7 linked regions of the Homo sapiens genome follow. The protein of the gene in region 3 interacts with the protein of the main gene of each other region in a pairwise test. Each region holds a gene or a part of one and is shown on either strand. Other genes may lie near its edges. The genes, in order: PLEKHF2, SPART, PRKAR1A, PDE4DIP, CSTPP1, DTX1 and AKAP19.

Region 1 (3,500 bases), on a different chromosome or scaffold from region 3:
ATATTTAAAAGCAATGTATGTGTTGACTTAACTGAATAAAAAATACTTCATGGATACACTTTCACAGTGCTGTTTTAAGTTGGAAAACCTCTCTAGGTTAAGGTGTTTTGTAATTCTATAATGCCTATAGAATTCGGGGTTTATTTCCTGCCCCCACCCAAGATAACTTTCTCCCCTGTCAAACTGTAAACCACAAACTAATGTGCTCAATTTAGGGAGGTCCTGAGAAGAGAATAAAAGGCATTCAAATAGTTGCTGTGAATGCACTGGAAAGAAAGCAAGTTGCATGTAGGATGGACTGGAACAAATAAACCTTGTCCTGACTCAGCTCCTTGCTGGCTTGTGACTCTTGAACAAGCCGCTTCACTTCTGTAAGCTTCACTGGACTCATTTGTGAAATGGGCACAGAAATATTTGCCTCAGTGTTAGCGTGAGGGTCACCCAAGATTCGATGTTTGTGGAAGGGCCTGGAATACGATAGTAGCTATTATTTTAACAAATGAACAGAGTGGCAGTGAATTATATAGAATCATAGAATTTAAAAATTTTTAAAGGGAAGCAGCCTGTAGGAATACCTAGTTCAGTTTTCAGCCTTGGCTGCACATTAAAATCTCCTGAAGAGCTACTTAAAAAGAATATTGCCTGGATCCCACCCCAGGACAAATAAATCAGAATTACTGGGTTTGGGGACAGAACAAAGGTAATTTTGCCTCTTTGTTAAAACATCCCCGATTTTAGTGTTCAGTCAGGTGGAGAACCTTTGATTTAACTCAATTTCCCATCTCCTTTCTTATGCTTTTCATTTTGTAGTTGAGTAAAATGCAGAGGGGTTAGCTGCCAGCCAGATTCCTATCAGTCAGGCTAGAAAGGATGTATTAAATATTTGCAGCTGAGGAAAGTGAAGTGCATAGAGGTTAAGTAAGGGTTACATTCATTTCTGGCCAGAATGGCCACATTTGGAACTACACTTCACTAACTCCGGTGACCCCCACTGCTACTCTACAACAGCAGCCTGCATGTTGTGACCATGTTACTTGTCATCATTCAGAACCACTCTACCTCAGGTCTTAAACCCTGTGGCCAGATGGCGATGCAAGGGTCTGTTTTCTCTTTCTCTTTTCTGTCATAACTGGTTAAGCAGCTTTTTGTCCTTATTGTCACCTCCAGTCCCTCCTAGGCCATTAGTTGTCTTCCCTCTTTTCAACCTTGAACTCTGTAGTTCATGTTCTAACCATGAACTCACTAGACCACATAGTCCCTCCTCTCCTTGACCTTTGCTGGGTGTAACTGGTCAGTTTTCTACCTTTGTCCCTGCCCTACACTCTCCCCCAAAGTCACGCTTTTGGTGATCATTACATACTTGTTTTCTACCTGCTTTATACTAGTTACTTTCTAATCCTTTTCTTATCCCCAAGTTGACTTATTTTCTCTGTTGCTTTTTCACTCCAGTCAGGTTGCTAACCCCAGTCTCGAAACATGTTGAGCAGATGACCTTACTTCCTTCTAAAATGATTAAGATTTTATGATGTGAATTTTCTATTTTCTTCTTTGCACCAACTTCTTCATCTTCCCCCCCCCCCCGCCCCTTTTTCAGAAGTGGAACTATTTTTAATTCTTTGTACTTGTTTCATTTAAACAACAGTTGGGGAAAAAGAAAGATTTTTGTGTTCTTTGCTCACATTTTTATTACTTGTACATATAACTGTATTTTACTTTTTATACTTATATTTTTCTACACATTCTTCTTTGTATTTTCTTCCCAAACTAAAAGGCTTTGTCTATGAGAGAATGTGTTCATTATAAGATAATTAGGCGTATCAAAATATTATTAGTCTAGTGCTTAGAGATAACCACTACTGACTTTTTGGTGCATATCAGCCACTTTTAAATAACAAGTAGGCTTATACTATATGTGCTATTTAGAAACTTTTATTTAATAAAATGCTTTAACAATATTTCACATTAAATATTGTGTTTTCTAAAAAACTGCCTAAAAATTAATGGATGTGCCATAATTTATTTAGTCTCCTATTGTTAAATATTTAGGTTGTTTCCAGCTTTTCTATATTATAGACAAAGCTACAGTGAACTTCATGTGAACAACTTTGTACACTTTTAATTTTTGTATGTATTATTGGAAATAGAATTGTTGTATAAACTTTCTAAAGCATTTCTATTGCCAAAATGGCATTTAGAAAAGTTGTTCCAGTGTATATACAGTATTGTCAAGAATATAAGGGTCCATTTTTACCACATCTTAGGTGAGTAATATATGAATATCATTTTAATTTTTATTTGATTGGGACTGAGTGTCATTTTTTAAATTTACTGGTCATTTTCATTTTTTTAAAATTGACATTTGTTTCTTATTTTTCTGTTGGGATATTTTCCTCTTTTCTTGTGGATTTACAGGAGCCCTTTGCATATTACAAATGTTGGCCGGGTGCGGTGGCTCACACCTGTAATCCCAGCCCTTTGTGAGGCCAAGATGGGCAGGTCAGATTGCTCGAGTCCAGGAGTTTGAGACCAGCCTGGGCAACATGGCAAAACCCCGTCTCTACAAAATACACAAAAATTAGTTGGGCAGGGTGGCATGCCTATAGTCCCAACTACTCAGGAGGCTGAGGTGGGAGGATCGCTTGAGACTGGGAGGTAGAGGTTGCAGTGAGTTGAGATTGTGCCACTGCACTCCAGCCTGGGTGACAAAGCAAGACCCTGTCCTGTCAATCAATCAATAAATGTTGACCCTTTGCCATATTACTTTAATGTTCTTCCCCCAATTATGAAGTTTTAAAAGTTTAGGTAGTAAATTTTTTCTTTTATGATGGCTTTTTGTGATACATTTAACTATTCCTCAGCTAGAAATTTAGGTTTTATTTTTCACTATTAGAGTTAATGCCAGAGGGAAAACTTTTTATGTGCCACACCCCCTCCACCCCCTTTCTCCAGTTTATTTCTCCAGGTTAAATTTTTGTGGGTAAAAATTTCAGATATTTTATTGTTACACATTGCCATTAGTCCTTGATTTTTTTTTTTTTTTCCCATGTGTCCCACTGCTGATTGTGACCTTTTGGCAGGTTATTTAGTCTCTGAGAGTTGTGAAACATATGAGAGCAGGTTGAAAAGGTGCTTTGTGCTCCTTTGTGTCCCGTTCTTTTTTCCCTTAAATTTTCCTCCTGCTTTCTAAACTAGGGGTTCCCCAAAGTTTAGTCCTCTGCTCTCGTTTTTCTTCCAGCATCAGCCAGCATCTCTAGGTGGGTGACTACCAAATCTCTCTGTCCTGGAGCTCCCTGCCCATCCTGGCATCTCTGTCCCGCAGATGTGTTTGTCTTGTGGATGCCCTGGAGGACTTCAAGATAAACATGTCCCAAACTGATTTCTTCTCTCTCCTAAAACAAAGCTAGCATCTGCCCAGTGGCTTACCCTTAAGCCTTTGAAGTCATCTTACAGTCCTTTTTCATCCATGTGTTCAGTTATTTCCTAAATCCTATCTGCTATGC
Region 2 (3,500 bases), on a different chromosome or scaffold from region 3:
CTTTGAAAGCTCATTGTTAAGTGTTAGCCAAAAAAGAAATATTTTAAATTGAAAGTCTCTGCAGAGTAGGGTAATACTTCTTCCATCTTAGGGGACACTGTTCTTACATGTTTTTTCTTTTCCCATCCCTCTCCCACTCCTTTCCCCACATTTCCACTGGCTGAGGACCTTTTGTCCTCACTAGAGAAGGCCCTTCCATCCCTCTGTTCCTCTGGTGAGCACTTCTGTCATTCAAGCTGCGAGAACATAAGCAAAGCAAAGCAAAGGGCTAGGGCCCACTGTCATGAGAAATGGCCAAATTATCTGGGCCTCACTCTTCTTCTTTTAGATTTTCTCTACTCATGCATTTGAGTGTTCTCATGTTTTTGTCATTCAGGTATGTGTAGCAAGCTAAACGGTGCTGAGATCCAAGAGTTTGGGTTTAGGATTCAGGAAGGAACAGGACCCCCTGACTAAAGCTTTTAGCCTAAAGAAAGTAAGAGTTCTGCCTTGGTGTTTGAGAGGCAGTTTCTTTGGTTTCCATTTTGTGATGTTTCTGTCTTTCTCCCTCAAGATTTCATGGGGAAAAGAGATGCCTGGCCTAAGGCAAAAAGAACAAGAATATCTGGGTTCTTTGGCCAAATTCTATCTTAATGGCACCAAAACTAAAAATTAATACCTAACAGTAATATACTGTGGTAAGTAACATATAGAGATACTGTTTGTGGTCATCTTCAGAAATTATCAGCTGCCACTAAATCTCAGGCCTTCTAGGTACTAGGTAGTGGCAGCATAGAGTAACGCAGAACTGTGTCACTAAGTATTCAGGAAGAAAACTGCAGGTATAAAGTTAGCTTGAAAGTTTATGACATGGCACATTTAGCATCTGAATATCAAACTCCTTTTATTTTTTTCTGGTTGATGTTATTTATTAAAGTGTTCAAAAGCATAATTAGCCCTAATATTGTGCAATTTTAAATTTTCTTTTAAAAAGGTGCTTCCTGGGTGAGTTGGGGTTTAGTCAAAGGTGCTGAGATTACTGGTAAGGCAATCCAGAAAGGTGCTTCTAAACTCCGAGAGCGGATTCAACCAGAAGAAAAACCCGTGGAAGTTAGTCCAGCTGTCACCAAGGGACTTTATATAGCGAAGCAAGCTACAGGAGGAGCAGCAAAAGTCAGTCAGTTCCTGGGTAAAGTAATTCTAGATAACTTTACTTTTTAAAGTTATATTTAAAATAATGTCTTAATCCAGGGTTAATCTGCATGTTCATTTAGATGGTTTAATCTCAAGAATAAAGAATTAGGACAAAGCAGTTTCTCTTTGTTATTCATAGTGAGACCTGCGGACCAGCAACATCACATCGTCCTATCTGGAATCCTTAGAAATGCAGAATTTTAGGGACAGACACACCTACTGATTCAGAATCTGCATTTTCACAAGATCCCTAGGTGATTCTTATTTGCACATTAAAGTTTGAGAAACTGGTTAAAGGGTTGTTCTGATGTGTTGGAGAGGAGAATGTGTGTATCTTTGAAAAAGAGTTCTGAATGTAAAGTCATGTATTGTTTAACGCAGGAGGTAAGTTCTAAGAAATGTGTCATTAGGTGATTTCATCATTGTGTGAACATCATAGCATGTACTCACACAAACCTAAACGTTGCCACTCCACACCTAGGCTATATGATATAGCCTATTGCTCCTAAGTACAAACCTATACACCATGTGACTGTACTGAATACTATAGGAAATTGTAACACAATGGTAAGTATTTGTGCATTTAAACACATCTAAACATAGAAAAGGTGCAGCAAGAATGCAGTATATAAAAGATAAAAAATGGCATAAAAACTGTAGAGAGCACTTACCAGAAGTGTCACTTGCAGGACTGGAAGTTGCTCTGAGTGAGTCACTGAGTGAGTGGTGAGTGAATGTGAAGGCCTAGGACATTACTATACACTATTGTAGACTTTTTAACACTGTACACTTGGGCCACACTAAATTTATTTTAAAAACAAAGTAATTGCACTATGATGTTATGGCGGCTGTGGTGTTACTAGGCAGTGGGACTTAATCAGCTCCATTATAATCTTATGGGACCATGAAATGTCTGAAATGACCAAACCATCATTATGCAGCATGACTGGATGTGAATCCTTGAGTCCTTCTAAGGGATATGACACATTCTTTCAAGGAGAGCAGTTTACTGCTTAGCAGTTGAGGGTCAAGAGGGAGGGATCTGTTGTTTGAGAAAAACTGACTTAGTGATTCTGGTGCCAACCTTCCCAAGCAATGTACTTCTAAATCCTTGCTCTTAGAGAATCACAGCACTGAAATTTGGTGTTTTGAGGTGGGTAGATAGGACCTTAATGGATTACCATTAAATTTAGTAAAATTATCTTTTTTGGTATTTAGTATTTTTTGAATCAGATTTTAGATTGTTTACTTTTATTCACCGAGATAACTGAGATATTTATCAGTAGAAAAATATGAATACGCTAAGCTGGAATAAGCTAAAAGTACCAACCAATCTTGCATTGCAACAGTCAGATAGAAAAGGTGGCTGGTTTTCTCAAGCAGAAGTGCAAGAGCATGTATATCTGAGAGGCAAGGTTATAAACATCAGTAGGCTCTGCAAGCACAGCTTTAAAGCAAACAAAAGCTTTCATTTAAAAAATAACCAGTCTATGCTTCATGCCTGTAGTCCCAGCTACTCAGGAGGCAGAGGCAGGAGGATCACTTGAGCCCAGGAGTACAAGTCAAGGCCAGCCTGGGCAACATAGTGAGACCTCCTCTCTAAGCTTCATATCCTTAAGAAGAAATTGTAACATTATATAGTAAAACAATTTAGATGTTCATTTAAGAATGTTGCAAGATGAGTGGTAAAAATCAAGGGAATAATATATTTTTCCTAAGTTTTCTTTTTTTATGGTCATATTAGTTGATGGAGTTTGCACTGTAGCAAATTGCGTTGGAAAAGAACTAGCTCCACATGTCAAGAAGCATGGAAGCAAACTTGTTCCAGAATCTCTTAAAAAAGACAAAGATGGGAAATCTCCTCTGGATGGTGCTATGGTTGTAGCAGCAAGTAGTGTTCAAGGTAACAAAGGGCCCAGAATTTTAACTATGAAGGTCCGTTTGCTTTGGACTAGATTTACATCGTTTTAAATATTATTTTTACAGGATTTTCAACTGTCTGGCAAGGATTGGAATGTGCAGCTAAATGCATCGTTAACAATGTTTCAGCAGAAACTGTACAAACTGTCAGATACAAGTAAGTTGAATTTTATTTTAATGACTAAATCTCTGTTTTGTTGTTGTTGTTGTTTTTCTGAGAGGGAGTTTCTCTTGTTGCCCAAGCTGGAGTGCAATGGCGCGATCTTAGGTCACTGCAACCTCCACCTCCCAGGTTCAGGCATTTCTCCTGCCTCAGCCTCCCGAGTAGCTGGGATTGCAGGCACACGCCACCATGCCCGGCTAATTTTTTTTTTTTAGTAGAAATGGGGTTTCACCACATTAGCCAG
Region 3 (3,500 bases):
TGGCCCTGCCCTAGAAATCTGTGGAACTTTGAACTTGAGAGAAATGATTTAGGGTATCCGGTGGAAGAAATTTCTAAGCAGGAAAGCATTCAAGAGGAAGCAGAGCTTGAAAAATTTGCAGCCTGACAAAGCAATAGAAAAGAAAATCCCATTTTCTGGGGAGAAATTCAAGCCTGCCGCAGAAATTCACATAAGTAACAAGGAGCCAAATGTTAATCACCAAGACAATGGGGAAAATGTCTCCAGGGCATGTCACAGACCTTCAGGACAGCCCCTCCCATCATAGGCCCAGAGGCCTAGGAGGGGAAAATGGTTTCCTAGGCCATGCCCTGGGGCTCCTGTACTATGCAGCCTCAGGACATGGTACCCTGCGTTCCAGCTGCTTCAGCTCCAGTCTTGGCTAAAAGGTACAGCTCTGGCCATTACTTCAGAGAGTGCAAGCCCCAAGCCCTGGTGGCTTACAAGTGGTGCTGGGCCTGTGGGTGCACAGAAGTCAAGAACTGAGGTTTGGGAACCTCCCCCTAGATTTCAGAAGATGTACAGAAATGCCTGGATGCCCAGACAGAAGTTTGCTGCAGGGGCGTGGCCCTCCTGGAGAACCTCTGCTAGGGCAGTGCGGAAGGGAAATGTGGGGTCGTTTGGAGCCCCCACACCGAGTCCCCACTGCAGCACTGCCTAATGGAACTACGAGAAGAGGGCCACTATCCTCCAGACTCCAGAATGGTAGATCCACCAACAGATTGCACCATGCACCTGGAAAAGCAACAGACTCTCAATGCCTGCCCATGGAAGCAGCCAGGAGGGGGGCTGTACCCTGCAAAGCCACAGGGGCGGAGCTGCCCAAGGCCACGGGAGCCCACCTCTTGCATCAGTGTGCCCTGAATGTGAGACATGGAGTCAAAGGAGATCCTTTTGCAACTTTAAGATTTAATTACTGCCTCGTTGGATTTCGGATTTGCACGGGGTCTATACTCCCCTTGTTTTGACCAAGTTCTCCCATTTGGAATGGGTGTTATCTACCCAATGACCCCAGGAAGTAACTAACTTGCTTCTGATTTTACAGGCTCATAGGTGGAAGGGACTTGCCTTGCCTCAGATGAGACTTTGGACTTGAACTTTTGAGTTAATGCTGGAATGAGTTAAGACTCTGAGGGACTGTTGGAAAGGCATGACTGTGTTTCAAAATGTGAAAACATGAGATCTGGGAGGGGCCAGAGGTGGAATGATATGGTTTGGCTGTGTCCACACCCAAATCTCATCTTGAATTGCAGTTCCCATAATCCCTATGTGCCCTGAGAGGGACCTGGTGGGAGGTAACTTAATCATGGCAGGGGGGTTACCCTCATGCTGTTATCATGATAGTGAGTGAGTCCTCACGATAGCTGACGGTTTCATAAGGGACTTTTCCCATTTTGCTCTGTACTTCTCCTTGCTGCTGCCATGTGAAGAGGATGGGTTTGCTTCTCCTTCTGCCATGATTGTAAGTTTCCTGAGGCCTCCCCAGCCATGCTGAATTGTGAGTCAATTAAACCTCTTTCCTTTATGAATTACCCAGCCTCGGTATGTCTTTATTAGCAGCATGACAACGGACTAATAGACTAACATACAAATTAACACCTAATACACAGAACTATGACCCACTAACAAGTTGAAAATCTAATTACTTAAAGGTCCAGGTATCTATATTCAACCCTGGAAGGAATGTATACATGTGAACAAAGACCCTTGAATTACAGCAAAAACCATGTTGAACTGTGACTTTAATTATTAAAAGTTAAAGAAGCTGAAACACATTAAATCTAAAAATTCCATCTGCAAAGAAACCATTTTAATAATTATTTATTGCTTTCCACCTTTGTTAGTCTTTAAACAGTACTGTGGCAACTACAAGCTTTGAAACTAGCATCACACATTCAACACTCCCTATAAAAAGATACACACTTAATGTCTCACCAACTTAATCCTCTCATTTGATGGTTTCTATTGATGTCCAAAGAAGAGGGATCACCTTACAGTGACCCATTTCAAAACCGGATCTCCAGGAATGCACTTGACTTCAAAACAAGCTACATCTATGACCTGGCTCTACAATACTTCCATGATTTGGAAATTGCATAAATAAGAGAAAGCCAGAATATCTACTATAATTCCAAGACAGCAAAGCAACATTCACAGTGACTAGTTGTTTTTGTTTTTTTTTTAATTATTCTGATCATGGTACTAAATACAAATTTTAACAATCAGTTTTTAAAGAAAATAGAAAATACCTGATCAATGAGCTACCCAAATACTTTTTAAAGCTTAGTACAGATTCTTTTACTAATAAACTATACTGATTATAAGAAACTATAAAAACCAATGGAAAATAAAGCAAATTATTTCTATTATACAATTAGATAATCATATACCAAAAGAAATGATTCATTTCTTTTGGTATATGAATCATTTCTTTTGGTATATGATTCATTTCAATTAATTCATAATCATTATGAACCACCTCATAACTTCCACATGCACAAGAAAATCAGTAAGTTTCTCTCACTGATTTACAGAAGCGAATCACATAAACTATTCAAAATATTTGGTAACCCAGACTTTTTCATTCATCGTTTCTTGAGGGAGATGAATTGAAGCATTCATTTGCTTCAATTATCCCTGATGTAAAATTATCACTTTGCTTAGAAAAACATATGCCATATACGTAGGTCACAATGACATACAAGCAAGGAGGAAGAGCAAAAAAGAATAAAAATTGGATTAATTTTTTTCAAGGCGCAACAAGTCCTGACCAATAAAATGGAGTAAAATTTTTGAGGAACATCAATATCAATATCTCTACAGTAATTTATCAGATATACTCTATACTAAAATAGACCGAATCTAATTGAAAATTTCTGATATATCAGTCACAAGCTAGATTCATGTTTCATTACACTAGTTTTAAAAGTGGGATAAGATTTACTACGCTTACTTGCTTTGTTCAAAACGGGAGGAGCATTAACTGCCTTTAAGAACTATAGAATTTCTTATTCATAGAACTGCTATACTAGTTCTGATCAGTTTTATCTGTTATAGTTCTACGCACTAATTTAAAAAGTTACAAAGAATTGTTTGGAAACCCTTTATTAGCCAAGTACAGTTAGCATACAGGTTCATTTTTCTGATAAATTCTACTAATTAAGAATTTTTAAATTACTACAAATGCCTTAACTGTATTTCTTATTTGAAATTGTTTTAGACTTTTTATTTAGTCAGATTCCTTTTCTTCCAAAAAATACAAATTAGTAACATTCCAGTTATTAAATGTAACAACTGTCACAATCACCTCATCATCTCCCCACATTTATTTTTACCTTCTCCAACCTCTCAAAGTATTCCCTGAGGAATGCCATGGGTCTCTCAGGTCGAGCAGTGCACAACTGCACAATAGAATCTTTGAGCAGCGCTTGAATGTTATGCTTCTGGACGTAGAGCTCACATTCTCGAAGGCTGCGTGCCTC
Region 4 (4,089 bases), on a different chromosome or scaffold from region 3:
AATCTTGGGAATCAAAAGCATGTAGCTAAGAACTTTTCCCAAGGAATATTTTAAAATTTTTATATCAATGTTTATGGAATGACATACTTTTTGATTCAAGGTTCTTAAATGTAGTTTTAGTTTTGATTCAATGTTATAGAACACTGTTTTTTAAACTGTGATCTGAAGCCCACATGTAATGGAATCACCTGGGGTGCTTATATTAAAAAAATGCAGATTCTAGGGCTCACACCAACTAAATCTCCTGGGATTGGAGACCAGGAGGTAGCTCCTATAATCTCCACAGCTGCTTCTCAGGCACACCAAGTTTAAGAACCATTCTTTCATATTTTCAGACTGGGGATTCTTACAAAATGACAAAGAAGGAAAACCTTAATCTTTTAAAGTTAGAGTTCAAGCATTAGACTATATGCTTCTTAAACACAGTTTGTCTTTCCCATTTTCTCTTTCCAGTTCTTTATACTGTCAAGGGATTGGTGCAGAAATGGGAAACAAAGCAGTGAAAGAAAAACTATTTATTTCTTTATACACATTTTGCTTTAACAATCACCAAAAAGACTTTCATTTTCTGTCACCCACCCTGTCCACCAGTTATGTTGGCCTTCAATATATGGCGTTAGCAACATATATAAATCTATATCATATATTTATACACACAAACACATTCTACCAGCACTGTGAAGACACAGACTAGGCTTTACTAGGCTTGGGGCCTCTCCCATGCCACTTAAAAATGAGCACAGGTTTGCTCTATGCAAGAATTTCAACAGAGTTGGTCTGGCCATCAGTCTGCAATTTCCCCGAGATAAGATAGGGTGACAAAATGGGACAGCAACTTTGAAGTGAGGTCAGTCCAATTTGGATATCATAGAAGAAAAGAAATAGGATGTGCTAGGTTAAGCCTGAGATGGTATCTGGGAAGTCACCACATTCATGATGTGAACTCAAAGAACACAGGTGCTACAGTGCAGACCAAGGCCCAGCCTGACTCGACCCAACAGGGTCAGGTGTGGATCTGTGAGTAGTGCTCACTGAGCCCCCGCCAGCAGTGTCCGGCAGGGCACCGCTGCTCAGTAGTGTGCTTTTAGAACCTGCCAGAGGAGCTCCAGCATTGGGACCACGTGCCCCTTTCATCGGAATCAGGGTCCTATATTCACTGAGTTTTCCATCTCAGGACAGCTGATGAGGCAAGAAATGTGCTCTTGCTAGTTCCCAAGCTGCTGGGGCTGTTGAGAGGCAGGATCACAAAACCTTCTGTGCAAACTACGCATCTTTTTCTTAGTGCTGGGCCAAGTGGACCTTGGCTAATCGTATTCCATAGCCGTCAGAAAGGCTTTCTGCCTTTCTCCCAGCTCCACCAGGATACATCTCTGACTCCCTCTTCTGGACCCTCCCGTGGACTTGGAGGAATGAGGCCCAGATGCTCCTCAGCAGATAGGTAGCTGCACAAAAGGGGGACAGGCCCACCTTTCCTGCTGTTTTAAGGACTTCTGGTGGCTGCGCTTCTTGCATGGTTCCTGGAAGGCAAGGGTCACAAGGCTGGAGTACATGGCAGAGCCCTTAGGGATTTCACCTGCAGACAAACATAAAACAAACCAAATCAGTGTATATTGCCAGGCCCTACTGATGGCTACCTGAAGCTGGAGTGAGAGCTACGTGGTGACCAAAGCCAGGAGCACGGTGAGAGCCAGTTAAGAGGATGAGCTAAGAGCATGCGCTGCAGTCTGGAGGAGCAACAGGTGCCCGAGGTTAGGGGGAGCCTCCCCACCTCCCTGTGTGCTGAGATCCCTGCTCCAATTCACTGCACACTGGGTGGCTGGATCCTACCACTCCCCCTTCAGGGGCCAGGTGACTCTCCAAATCACTTTGTCTCAGCAGAAAGAGGCCTTTGCCATGTCCACCCAAGAAAGAAGTGCTTAGCATGAAACATGCACATATAGAAACAGCCTGTTTGTAGGAAGAAGAGGACATTTTGCTGGGAAGCCCTCTGTTAAGTTTATGTCCAGTTGCCATAATGAGGGTGTGGAGGGGCCAAGTCCACAGGGACCTCAGAGCTCAACTAAGTCCAGTTCCATCTTTGACAGATGAGGGTGCAGCAGTCTCACAGAGACTAAGGGACAAGCCAAAGCCACACAGCAGTTAGTGATAAGCCAGGGATTAGAACCGAGGCCTCGGGTCCTTTCCAGTGATCTATGGGAGGTGGAGGGGAAAGCTTCCACACTGGAGAAAGCCAGTGGATACTAGAGATTTTTGGGTTACCTTTTAGTGGATACTAGAGACTTTTTGGATTACCTTTTCTGGGACAGGAATAAGGCTTTACAGAGGCAATCCTGTAAGTGCTGCTCTAAAGAGGCTCAGGAAAGAGAAGAATTATCAGAGAAAAACAAAAGGGAATTAGTGAAAAAATAAAAAAAAGAGCAAGTTAAACTGGCCCAAGTCATTTTCACACTATGGAGATCAACATTCTCTCAGGTTATGGATTAGAAACATTTCTAGGAATATGCTGAATTGCTTATGGCAAAGCTTTGATGTCCATGTTAAAAGGTTTAGTTTCTGATTTTTAACCATTTCATATACCTCAAGTTTTTCTTCAAAGCACTTCCTAGGGAATGATTAACACTTAGTGTTTTAAGTAAATGTAGATAATGTCTGGTACATATATAACATTTTTTCCCTGAAGGTTCAGTTGTTATTTATTAACAAATTCGCTTTTAGACCAATGAGACCCAACAGATCTCTTTTGTCATGTTACTTAAAGATATAGCAAAATCAAATTGCTGTTCTTAACCCGGGAATGTGCAGTGAAATCAGTTTATTAGGTTGCAAATTGCTTTTACTTTTTCATGAAGAGTAGAACACATAACTGGCCTCAAGATCCCTCTACTAGAAGCTCATTCAGAGGCAGACTCCCGAATGTCTAATGACTTCAAGAGTCAGCTGAATTGCATTTCTCCAGTCTCTGAACTTGGCCTCAAAGAAGAAAAATTGGAGTAAAAAGGAGAGATGATGACAATGTGAGAGTGAACCAAGATACAGGGGCAGGAGCTGACGGGGTGGGAGGGTGATGGGGACAGAAACTAGCAGGATGCTCACTGAGGACCTGTGATCTTGCAAGTGGACCCCAAGTCTTCTCCTGGAAGGCCAAAGCAGGCCAAGGGTCACCTACAAGATCTGCTAACGGATGGTGATGGGTGGGGGACAGGCTTGGTGCCTCTGACTGGTGCAGTAGTTTCCTTACCTCTAAGTTAGTCCTTGCCTTCTTTAAAACATCATGTGTTCTGGTTACTGAAACAACAAAAGAGCACCACAGAGTAGAAACCACCAGCAGAAATTAACCCTACTTGCTTAGCATGAGAATTCTAAAGCATTTATTTCTTTCTGGCTATTCAGCTTGGAGTCTCCTTCTATCCACCCCCTGTCCTCCCCTCCCTCTGCAGCCACAATTGCTCCTGGTACAGGAGGTTTGGGGACATCAAATCAGTCTCAACTCCCAACATCCCCAAGCCCCCCTGGTCACTGCTCATCTGCAGCACAAGTGGGGCATCGGGAAGACTGCCTGTTTCTTCCCCCATTCCCTCTCAGGGAACCTACGCTGGCTGACGATGAACTGCTCCATGCTCTCCTTCTGCTGGTTGGCGTTCTTCAGATGCTCAGTTGTGCTCTGAAGGAGTCGCTCCTGTTTGGATACTTTGGTTCTCAGTTCCAGAAGTTCCCTTTCTGTTGATTCTCCCTGGATAAGAGGAACAGACTCTTACTGACCAGGCAGAAGGCCTAAAGCACCCTGTGCTTTGTGGCTCTTTCCAATTCAAAGAAGGATTCTACAGTCTTCTCAACTCTCTTGAACTGGATTTCCTCCTTCACAGCCTCGGATACCTCCAGCTGAGGACAGTTCAGGATGAGGCCATTAGGCAGGAATAATGAGACTCTGGAATTCCCCATGCAGACTAGCACAGGCCTACACACCTGTAGCTTAAGAGAACCTCGCCTCAGGCTGGTATCAAACTCCCAACTCTGAAGAGGACCTTGCTTTAGTCCTGATATCAGTTCTGTCACTCTCCCTTCACAGGTAAGATTGAGAGTTCAGAAGTG
Region 5 (3,500 bases), on a different chromosome or scaffold from region 3:
CCCATCAAGCATTTTTCCTTTGTGTTACAAACAATCTAAATGTACCCTTTGAGTTATTTTAAAATGAACAATTAAGTTATCATTGACTAGAGTCACCCTGTTGTGCTATCAAATAGCAGGTCTTTTTCATTCTTTTTTTTCTTTTTTGTAACCATCAACCATCCCCACCTCTTCCCCCAGCCCCCTGCTACCCTTCCCAATCTCTGGTAACCATCCTTCTATTCTCTTTGTCCATGAGTTTAATTGTTTTGATTTTTACATCCCACAAACAAGTGAGAACATCCAATGTTTGTCTTTCTGTGCCTGGCTTATTTCACTTAACATAATGATCTTCAGTTCCATTCATGTTGTTGCAAATGACAGGATCTCATTCTTTCTTAGGGCCAAATAATACTCCATTGTGTATATGTACCACATTTTCTTTACCCATTCATCTGTTGATGGACACTTAGATTGCTTCCAAATCTTAGTACTCTAAACAGTGCTGTAACAAACATAGGAGTACTGATATTTATTCGATACACTAATTTCCTTTCTTTTGGGTATATACCCAGCAGTTGAATTGCTGGATCATATGGCAGCCCTATTCCTAGTTTTTTGAGGAACCTCCAAACTGTTCTCCACAGTGGTTATACTAATTTACATCCCCATCAACAGTGTAGAAGGGTTCCCTTTCTCCACATCCTCGCCAGCATTTGTTATTGCCTGTCTTTAGGATACAAGCCATTGTAACTGGGGTGAGATGTTATCTCATTGTAGTTTTGATTTGCATTTCTCTGATGATCAATGATGTTGAGCACCTTTGCTTATGCCTGTTTGCCATTTGTATGTCTTGTTTTGAGAAGTGTCTATGCACATCTTTTGTCCATTTTTTGATGGGATTATTGGATGTTTTCCTATAGAGATATTTGAGCTCCTTATATATTCTGGTTATTAATCCCTTGTCAGATGGGTAGTTTGCAAATACTTTCTCCCATTCTGTGGGTTGTCTCTTCACTTTGCTGATTAGAAATACACTTAAATCATTAAGTGATTGGCACAGCATCCTGTAGAAAGAAAACTGCAGAGGAACATTAGCCTAGATTCCATGAGAAAAGCCAGCCATGAAAAAAAACAGGCTAGATGAACATCAGCGAAAGGAAATCAAAGTGAATATTTTGAATAAAGGAGAAAGTTAAAAGAGAAACCTACAGAAATAGATCTAATAGATCAAACAAGCAGTTGTTAAGCTACTGTAATCAAAACTATTCATGAGACATCACTGGACAAACTAGCTGCACCAAAGGCATGCTCCAAAACATGTTTGGGCGGCCCACAACCAACCTACCAAAACTAAACATTCACTGCCACTACCTAATCAGCATTGTCCTGCTCTGTTCCTCAAGTATCCTGCCTGCTTCCAAGCGCCTCCTCTGGGTTCACTGTATTAGTACAACATTCATGTACTTACTATTCAGTGAAGAACCTGGCAATTCCATATTGGCTAATATCTTCCCTGTTTTCTAGCAGCTGGCACACTGCATCCTCCATGTAGGTGAGGACATGTCGCTGAGCTGCAATCAAATAGCAAGAGAGAAAGAGAAAATGAGAGAAAGATTTTAAAAAGAATGATCCCAATCCTAGTAGGAGGTCATGTGTAAGGCAATCCAGGTGTTGGCTCTGTCTGATGACACTTCATCAGTGGACTGGAATAGGCAAAGCAAACTTGCTGACCCTAACTGAGCTATAGTCTCAAAGGATAGATTGGGAGATGATGTGAACATGACCAATTGCCATTTGACTGGCTGTTAGTATTAGCATCAACCCTTCATTCTTCATCTCAATCACAAGGGTGGGTTGAAGAGGAGATTTAGCACCATTCAGCAGATACACCTGGAAGTTCTTTTCTTTCTACCTCCTTCTATTCTTTTCCATTTCTGCATCAGAAACTTATCCCAGGGAGTTAGTAATTCCATGCTTGAAGCATGGATGGTATGATTGTAAAGAAAACTCTGGCCAGGCACAGTGGCTCAGGCCTGTAATCCCAGCATTTTGGGAGGCTGAGGCGGGTGGATCACTTGAGGTCAGGAGTTCGAGACCAGCTTGGCAACATGGTGAAAACCTGTCTCTACCAATAATACAAAAATTAGCCAGATGCAGTGGCTACTTCCTGAGTAGCTAGTAATCCCAGCTACTCAGGAAGCTGCGGCAGGGGAATTGCTTGAACCTGGGAGGTGGAGGTTGCAGTGAGCCAAGATCATGCCATTGCACTCCAGCCTGGGCGACAGAGCCAGACTTCATTTCAGAACAGAAAAAAAAGAAAACTCAGTTAATTTAAATTAGAAAAAAAAAAAAAAAGTCACTGGAAAGGTTTAAGGACCATGAAAATTTTCGTACTGGTGTATATATAAGTTATTAACTTTGGTAAATAACAAGACCATGAAATCTATCTGGCTTGGTTTATTAGATGTCATGTTTTCTGCATTTGTTGTGACTTGGAAATGTGTGAGTTAATCATGGGCGTATAATAAAAAGTATGAGTATTAGAGTGAGACAGACCTGAGTTTGAATCATGGCTCTGTCTTGGTAGCTTAATCTTGGATAGTTACTTAGTCTACACCTGTTTTCTTCTTTATCAAGTGTGAAAAGCAATATAATTTAACTATGTTTCTCAAAATATGGTCAATCAATTTCTTGATCTGAATCCCCTGGGATGCCGTTTAAAACGCAGATTTATAGTCTGGCACTGTCCCAGATTTAGTGACCTTACATTTTTTACTACAGCCCAGTAATTTTTAACAAGTACTCCTGATGCTTCTTATGTACTCTTAAGTTTAAGAATCACTGGTTAAGAACCTGGGCTTTGGATTACAGAGAGTTGAGAGCTCCATTCTCAGCTCTGCCACTTCCTAGTTATGTGACCATAAACAAATTATTCTTCAAGCCTATTCTTCATGGTAAAATGGGGATAATAATGGTACTTACATTATAGGGTTATGAGAAATAAATAAGATAATACAGGTAAAACACCACTATGTGTTTGGTACATAGTACGTGATTGATAACATGTTTCCTTAAAAGCCTGTCTCAAAGCATTATTGGGAGTTTACTCAGTAAACAACATAGGCCAGAACTTCTTAGATGTCAGGTACTCAAATACTTCTTCCCTTTCTCTGAATTTTATCCTTAGGTATGACAGAGGTTTCCTGACAAACTTTACATAGAAGCTTCCAATTCAGTGTCCACATTTACCATAAAAAATTCAGAAAAATACTTTCATCTGGAGCAGTGAGAACAAAAAACCCCAAAGTGATGAATATCCTTCCAAAAAGCAATTCTATGAAGTTGCTGCCAAAGTAGACATTTACTTCTTTCACAGTTTCATTCCTCAGGAAAATATGATGGAATTACCTAAAATTTATAAATATTGGTATTTCAAAAAACTATTTCTGAAGTCCTGGTAGTCTAGTGAAGCTCATAAAACAAGTAAGTTTACCTGCCAACCTGAGCCCAAAAGTCTT
Region 6 (3,500 bases), on a different chromosome or scaffold from region 3:
CCCGGACAGTGCCTGGCACACAGTAGGTGCTCATGAAACTCCTGATGAATGAATGAATAGTGACCACAATCACACAAGTTCAGTACTATCATCAGGTCCATATTACAGGTGAGGAAACAGAGGCTCAGAGGCTCAGGGAGGGAGTGTGGTTTACTTAAGGTCACAAATCTCCCCACCCACTACGATTCTTTTTTTTTTTTTTGAGACGGAGTCTCACTCTGTTACTCAGGCTGGAGTGCAATGGCTCAATCTCAGCTCACTGCTACCTCCACCTCCCGGGTTCAAGTGATTCTCCTGCCTTGGCCTCCCGAGTAGCTGGGATTACAGGCGCCCACCACCATGCCCACTAATTTTTGTATTTTTAGTAGAGAGGGGGTTTTACCATGTTGGCCAGGCTGGTCTCGAACTCCTGACCTCAGGTGATCCACTCACCTTAGCCTCCCAAAGTGCTGGGATTATAGATGTGAGCCACCACACCCGGCCTACACACCCCATGATTCTTAGTAAGCAGCTGGGATGGGAACCCAGAGCCTGGCCCTCACCAACAGCATTCCCCGAGGTAGCTGTTTCCAGGTTCCAGGCCCCATGTCCTCAGTTGATGTCAGCCAGAGGCAGCTAGGGGCTGCTGGGGGTGTCTGTGTCAACCCAGAGGCTGGGTGGGCTCATGGGGGTGACTATCTAAGGGACTGGAGCTGTCCTGGGGACTGGCTACCACCGGTTGTGATTCCAGAGCCAGGTGGAAGGATGGAGGCCCAGGGAGAGACAGAGGTGGCGGGCGGAGGCCTGGGAGCACCCCAGGCACCCCCATGCACCAAGAACATCACACTGGAGAGAGAGTTAGGGACCTCAACCCCATTGCCTACTGCCTGAATGGGCACTTGGAGCCACTGTGACCAGTCCTGCCCCAACCCCTTGGCCTCCCCGTGGCCTCCCCGTCCTGGCCCCTCCTCGTCACCCTCTCATCACACCCTCCATCATCTCCCCTCCCAACCCCTCACGCTTCACTCCTTACCACCTTCTTCACCATCCCCTCCACAGCCCCGCTACCTGTCACTTCCGCATCACCTCCCCTACTCCAGCCCCCACGCTTCCCATCACAGCTTCCATCTCCTCCTTCCTCTCCAGGTCAGACTCCGCAGCTCCTTTGGAAGAATGAGGCGGGGGATGGGAGGAAGCTGGAGAGGAGGAGGGAGGGAAGAAGGAGGAGAAAGGGGTGAGGGGAGGAGAAGGAGAGGGAGAGGGCTGCGAGGGGGTCTGTCCCGGGCATCCCCACCCCCAGCCCGGAAGGCGCGGGCGGGTCGTTGATGGTGCTGTCCAAGGTACTCGGTGGCCCGGGCGAGCCTGGGAAGGGCCGTGCGCACCCAGCTGCAGACCTGGATCTGATCTCAGACCCGTCTCTTCTCAGCGTCGGCAGGCGGCTCCCCACCCTCTGAGCTTCAGCTTTACTATGTGTAAAATGGGGTGACACCCGCTGGCTGGGTGAAGGGAACCCAGACAGACTGTAGGAAGTGCCTGAGGCTGCCCCTGCCCCACCTGCTCCAGCTCCAAGGGCCCGTGATTAATGAGGCTGGTCCTGCAGCGTGGCTGTGAGTCCCCCGGGGCCTGGCTGCTAAAGGGCAGCAGCTGGCAGCCCAGCCTGCCAGGCCCCAGTGGGCCCCACGAGGCCTCCTCTACCCATCCCCTATCTCCCATCACAGCCTCCCTCTGCCACCCAGGCCTGAGACCCTCCTCCAGGACCCTGCTGAAGGACCCCTGCTGTTTCCTCCACCTGTAAGTGTTCCTCCTATCATTCTATTTACCCAAATCACACACTCTCAAAGGACTCCTCCTCCAGGAAGTCCTCCTCTCAGAGGCTCCAGGCATACACCATGCACATCCCATGGCTGAAGGCACCGTGCATCTGCCTAGTGAGGCATTTAAATCTTTTTCTTCCTCGAGCATGAGTGCTTACTACGTGCAAAGTAGTATCCTCCAAGCTTTTATCTACATATCTCATTTATGTATCTCATTATGTCCTCATGACAACCCTCCCAGCTAGGGACTATTCTTATCCCCATTTTACAGAGGAGGAAATAAACTCAGAGACGTTAAGGAATTTGCCCATGGTCACACAGCCAGCAAGGGGCCAAGCTGGGTTTTAGGTCTGTATCTGTTGTCCTTATGAGTCAGAGGGTTCAAAGGCTATTTCCATGATATGCATTTGCCTTCACCTTCACTAGACTCTGAAACTGATCTGAAATGGATAGATTAGACTCTGAAATGGATTTTGCCCTTCTCTCTGAGTCCCCAAGACCCAGCCCAGGACCTGGTACTGAGAAGCCACCAATGACTACCAAATACGAGCGATGAATTTAGTTTCAAAACAGGCTTCTGGAGTTAGCCAAGCAGCCAGAGACCATGGGTCTGCAATAGTAGAAATACAGACAGCGTGACTGGTGGTTGGGGAGCACCCACATATGGATTAGCTGGACCTGCTGCTACCAGAGATGGGCCGCTCCCTGCCCCTACACATAGTCTTTCTTGCCCCTGGCATCAGGCCCAGCCCTAGTCTCCAGTGAGGAGGCTGGAGAGAGGGTCCCAAAGGGTCCTGTAACCAGGAGCTGAGCCCTGGAGGCCTCCAGGGTAGTGCAGGCTGTCCCTGCCTTGGGCTAGACCCTGACAACAAGCCCCAAGAGCGCTCTCAAGGGAGAAGGGGGAAGGGGGAAGGGGTTCTCTCAGCCCTGGCATTAAATGTCACCTTGTTTTCTATCCCTAAGGCCTGTCTGGGGGGCCTGGGCTCTAGCTTAGGACTGGTAGGCTGTGTGACCTTGGGGAAGTCACTCACCCTCTCTGGGCCTCACTGTCCCCAGTTGGTGTCTAATTCTGGAGGTGTTTTCCCCGGTGATGGGAAAAGCTCCTCCCATCTGGGTGGTAACAGCCTAAGGGTCTCCAGCCTAAGTGTCCTCAGATAGTGCTTCCTCTCATGGCAGGGACCAGGGCTGAGTGAAGCCCAAGGTTTCCAGGGAAGGAGGCAGGCTGGAAGATCCCAGAACCAGCCACCACCTGCCACTCCAGCCTGTTGGCCAGCTTGGGGGCACCAGAAAAGGCCAGGCTTGCAGCCTCGGGTATGGCATCTTTGGATGGTCCCCAGCTGGCATCCCTCGGCCTCAGCTATCCCATCAGCAGAAGGGGCAGGAGGCTGCCATGCACCCCTCCAGCAGCACATGGAGAGCGACATGGGAGATACCAGGCAGATAGGTGCCCCTCCCCAGCTCCAGTCATATGAGGCCAGGGAGCGAGCTGGGAGCTTCTGCGGAAGTGGCTGAGTTACACCTCTGTCCAGCTGTGTGAACTGGGTGGGAAATTCAGGGTCTGGGTGAGGCCCTCGGAGGCGGCTGTCCCAGTGGCAGGGGATGTAAATGACCCCCCAGGGAAGATGTGGCTTCTTCTCTGGGAGCAGAAAGCCATTCTCAAACCTTTCCCCGACTGCCAGTGGCAGCCAACCCCCTCACCCCAAGACC
Region 7 (3,500 bases), on a different chromosome or scaffold from region 3:
GTGGCTGTAACAAATCTAAACATGCGTTAAAATTCATAGACTTGTTCACCAAAATGAAGTCAGCTTTACTGTATGTTAAAAATTTTAAAAAGGTATTTTTTAAAACCACAATATAATTACCCACACTAAGATTGCTAAAATTTAAAAAACCCCAGTGCTTAGTGTTGGTGAGGACATGCAACGCATATATTGCTGGAAGGAATGTAAAATGGTACAACCATTTTAAAGAATTCCTTGGCTGTTTCTTAAAAAGTTAACCACACACTTACCCTGTGAACCAGCCATTTCATTTCTAGATATTTATCTAAGACAAATGGAAACACAGGTATTTTAAAAATCTGTATACCAATATCCATAGCCTCTTTATTCACAATAGTCAAAGCTGGAAACAACCCAAATGTCCATCAGTAGGCAAATCAAATGGATAAACAAATTAGGGATATCCTCAAAATGGAATATAACTTGACAATTAAAAAAGGATGAACTATTGGTATGTCAAACCACATGGATGAATCTCAGACATGTTGAGCCAGATAAAAAAGATGGATCATATTTATATGAATTTCAAGATTGGACAATAGTGACCCTATGAATAGAAATCATAGTAGTGATTCCCTTTGGGTGGGAAGAAGTAAGGACTGTTTGGAAGAGGCCCTGAAATAACTTTCTAGGCTATTAAAAAATTCTATATCTTAATTGGTATGTTAGTTACATGAGGTATATGTTAAAACATGTTAGATTGTACCTTTAACATCTGTTTACTGTATTTCACTGTAATTTTTACTTTAATAAGATATAAGAACAGTTTTTGAGAACATTCTGGGGCACCTAAATCCAGGGGACTGATGTATTTTATCTGAAAAAGACCGCCTATGGGCAGCATCCAGAGCGGACCAGCTCCCTGTGCTGGAGGACTCCAGTGTGAGGCCTGCTGCTTCCTTTCTACATTGGCCTGAAACCAGCCCAACTCAGTGGTCATAATCTTCTGGGCCTACCGAAGAGCAAAAGCCTACTTCTAGTTCTTCCAGTTGCCAGTTCAAGGGCTTTATCTGTCACTTCCTTTGGGAACAGGTAGAGTGCTTTGATTTAGAATGATGGCAATAAATGAGAAACCAATTTGAAATTGGATGTGAGAGTCTTTTGTCCTTTATTGTGTTGTTCCTGAACTTGTAGCTAAGGAGGGTAGAGTAGAGAGAGGGATATATAACCTTATCCAAGGAAATAGATTAGTAATACTTCATCCCCACCACACTTTAATTTGCACATATTTCTAGAGTATAGGACATCAAAAATACCTAGATATTAAAATATTTATGTTGTTAACCTTCAGCTGGTTTAGCCGTATCTATTAAGGATAGAAAACAACTGTTCTTCAGTTACTTATCACATCTGCTTACTAATTTATGTTATGTTTATCATCTCTTCCCATCTAATAGATGAAACAGGCAGATAGGTCTGGCTCTTCCACTTGCTGACCCAGAGTTCACATGGCAAATAAGAATGGAGCTGTCACTCCGAATTCCAGCTTCTTCTTGGAATAAAAGTGCTCCAACGGTACTTTATCCAATCCAGCCTATGTTTTTAAGTGTTAACTTTCTCCCTTTCTTGAACTTATAGAACCTCTGTCCCATCTTTGAAGTTAATTCTTGCCGGTAAAGACCAAGATAGCTCCTTCCCAGGGTCTCTGTTTCTTTCTTCTCATTGCCCCTGTCCTTGACCTGATCTCTGGGCTATCAGCAAGAACGTGATGGCCCAGACCTTCCCAGTCTCCCAAACAGGTCTCTGGGTACTACTACCCCAGGACTAGTTCTCAAATCTGGCCTTCAAGTCCTGTGTTGGGAAAAATGACACTGATATATTCATGTAATTAGGTAATCATCTGGTCCAGTAACTAGCTATCTAATGGAATTGCTCATGGCATGCTGAGAAGGTGCAGTTGCCCTAATTGAATGGATTAGTAAACTGCCCCCACATATTTGTTAATCAGATTTTCATGCTATAGTTTCCATCCCACAGAAGCCTCAAGATTTATCATGAATAAAAAAGCATCATCCTTAAAGTAAGAGCCAAGAGGGAAAAAAAAGTTCATGTGAAGCATCTACTGTTCATAATAGCAGCTGTTTAAATACTTTTAAATACTTAAAAGGCAGTTACAATACAGTACTTTAAATACTTAAAAGGCAATTACAGTATAAGCCTGCACACCAGTGAAGAACAAACTTCGTATAATTTCAATCACTCCTAATAAGATAGTTGATTCATAAGGAGGAAATAAAGTTTCAACAATGTTAGCCATTAATGCAAGTCAGTGGTTAGGCAGCTATGATTAGCCTTAAGATAGCAGGTGTGATCAGCTGTCCTGAATTAATTTTTAGTCTGTTATTCATTTGTCAGGTTGGGAAGTGACTATGGTCATCAGTTGAAGGTGTGATACATTAAATGCTGCATATCAACCAGGAAGTGTTTTGGCCTTCTTGTCATTTTAACTGGCTAATTACAGAAATATAAAATGTTTAAAAAACACAGTTTCTCAAAAATATTTAAATCAATCTTTTATACCTTAGTTCTCAAGATACACAAAAGAACTATCAGAGCATCCCTTAACCATCCAACCAGTCTATATTGAGTGTCTACTATGTGTTTAGAACCTGCGCCCATAGAATGTAAGTGCTTCCAAAATTAACAAAATCAAAAGGAGAAAGAGAATATAATTTATTCAGGCTATAAGTATTAAAATCTAACAGTGCCCTTCCACCCACCACTCCCTCTCCCTCTGTCTCCTACCCCTCAAATCACAATGCACAGACACATATATACACATGACAGTCATACATGAGGAAAAGAAAGCCCCTTTACATGTTTCAATGTTATTTGAAGGCTCAAAGCTCTAAAAATATAGAATGAGCCCTGACACTATCCTCAGGAAGAGATCTAGCAACAACTGGGCCTTCTGTTGGGTCCGTCAAAGAAAAAATGTGATTTACTGCAGCTACCCACCTTTTTTCTCCTAGAGCCAGGGTCTCAGTCCATCGCCTGGGCTGGAGTACAGTGGCCAGTTGTGGCTCACAGCAGCCTCGAACTCCTGGGTTCAAACTATTCTCTGGCTTCAGCCTCCTGAGTACCTGCGACTATAGGCACGTGCCACCATGCCCACGTTATTTTTTATATTGTTTGTAGAGACAGCCATATTGCCCAGGCTGGTTGTGAACTCCTGGCGTCAAGTGATCCTTCTGCCTTGGCCTCTCAAAGTGCTGGGATGATAGGTGTGAGCCACCATGCCTGCCTAGCCCTTCTTTATAGTTCATTTTGTAGCTGTGTTCCTCCATTCTGGGTGCAGTGTCATCAAAAGGAGTAAATTCCTTGGGAATATGCCAGTGGAAGGTATCACAAAAAGGCCATAATTTGGACATGAGTTGGACCCAAACACAAAACCAGCAAAAAAAAAAAAAAAAAGTAACTTCTAAAATCTGCTGTGTAAACGAATAGGCTGCTAACTCCCC

What was found.
Region 1: the proteins of PRKAR1A (region 3) and PLEKHF2 interact in binary tests that used the Homo sapiens proteins (3 or more experiments, as listed by UniProt).
Region 2: the proteins of PRKAR1A (region 3) and SPART interact in binary tests that used the Homo sapiens proteins (3 or more experiments, as listed by UniProt).
Region 4: the proteins of PRKAR1A (region 3) and PDE4DIP interact in a two-hybrid assay, tested with the Homo sapiens proteins (one study listed by IntAct).
Region 5: the proteins of PRKAR1A (region 3) and CSTPP1 interact in binary tests that used the Homo sapiens proteins (3 or more experiments, as listed by UniProt).
Region 6: the proteins of PRKAR1A (region 3) and DTX1 interact in binary tests that used the Homo sapiens proteins (3 or more experiments, as listed by UniProt).
Region 7: the proteins of PRKAR1A (region 3) and AKAP19 interact in binary tests that used the Homo sapiens proteins (3 or more experiments, as listed by UniProt).

Annotation. Positions count from the first base shown.
Region 1 is NC_000008.11:95,136,785-95,140,284, forward strand, and holds part of PLEKHF2 (pleckstrin homology domain-containing family F member 2), read left to right. Parts: intron 1-3,500. UniProt on the Homo sapiens protein: May play a role in early endosome fusion upstream of RAB5, hence regulating receptor trafficking and fluid-phase transport. Enhances cellular sensitivity to TNF-induced apoptosis.
Region 2 is NC_000013.11:36,311,895-36,315,394, reverse strand, and holds part of SPART (spartin), read left to right. Parts: intron 1-973; coding exon 974-1,168; intron 1,169-1,312; exon of another isoform or gene 1,313-1,427; intron 1,428-2,917; coding exon 2,918-3,076; intron 3,077-3,159; coding exon 3,160-3,250; intron 3,251-3,500. UniProt on the Homo sapiens protein: Lipophagy receptor that plays an important role in lipid droplet (LD) turnover in motor neurons.
Region 3 is NC_000017.11:68,515,430-68,518,929, reverse strand, and holds part of PRKAR1A (cAMP-dependent protein kinase type I-alpha regulatory subunit), read right to left. Parts: coding exon 3,354-3,500; intron 1-3,353. UniProt on the Homo sapiens protein: Regulatory subunit of the cAMP-dependent protein kinases involved in cAMP signaling in cells.
Region 4 is NC_000001.11:149,029,428-149,033,516, reverse strand, and holds the end of PDE4DIP (myomegalin), read right to left. Parts: intron 3,731-4,089; coding exon 3,592-3,730; intron 3,286-3,591; coding exon 3,239-3,285; intron 2,345-3,238; coding exon of another isoform or gene 2,293-2,344; intron 1,574-2,292; coding exon 1,532-1,573; coding exon of another isoform or gene 1,428-1,531; 3' UTR 501-1,427; downstream 1-500. UniProt on the Homo sapiens protein: Functions as an anchor sequestering components of the cAMP-dependent pathway to Golgi and/or centrosomes.
Region 5 is NC_000011.10:46,985,261-46,988,760, reverse strand, and holds part of CSTPP1 (centriolar satellite-associated tubulin polyglutamylase complex regulator 1), read right to left. Parts: intron 1,554-3,500; coding exon 1,451-1,553; intron 1-1,450. UniProt on the Homo sapiens protein: Regulator of the tubulin polyglutamylase complex (TPGC) that controls cytoskeletal organization, nuclear shape, and cilium disassembly by balancing microtubule and actin assembly.
Region 6 is NC_000012.12:113,063,230-113,066,729, reverse strand, and holds part of DTX1 (E3 ubiquitin-protein ligase DTX1), read right to left. Parts: intron 1-3,500. UniProt on the Homo sapiens protein: Functions as a ubiquitin ligase protein in vivo, mediating ubiquitination and promoting degradation of MEKK1, suggesting that it may regulate the Notch pathway via some ubiquitin ligase activity.
Region 7 is NC_000002.12:190,187,363-190,190,862, reverse strand, and holds part of AKAP19 (small membrane A-kinase anchor protein), read right to left. Parts: intron 1,129-3,500; exon of another isoform or gene 1-1,128.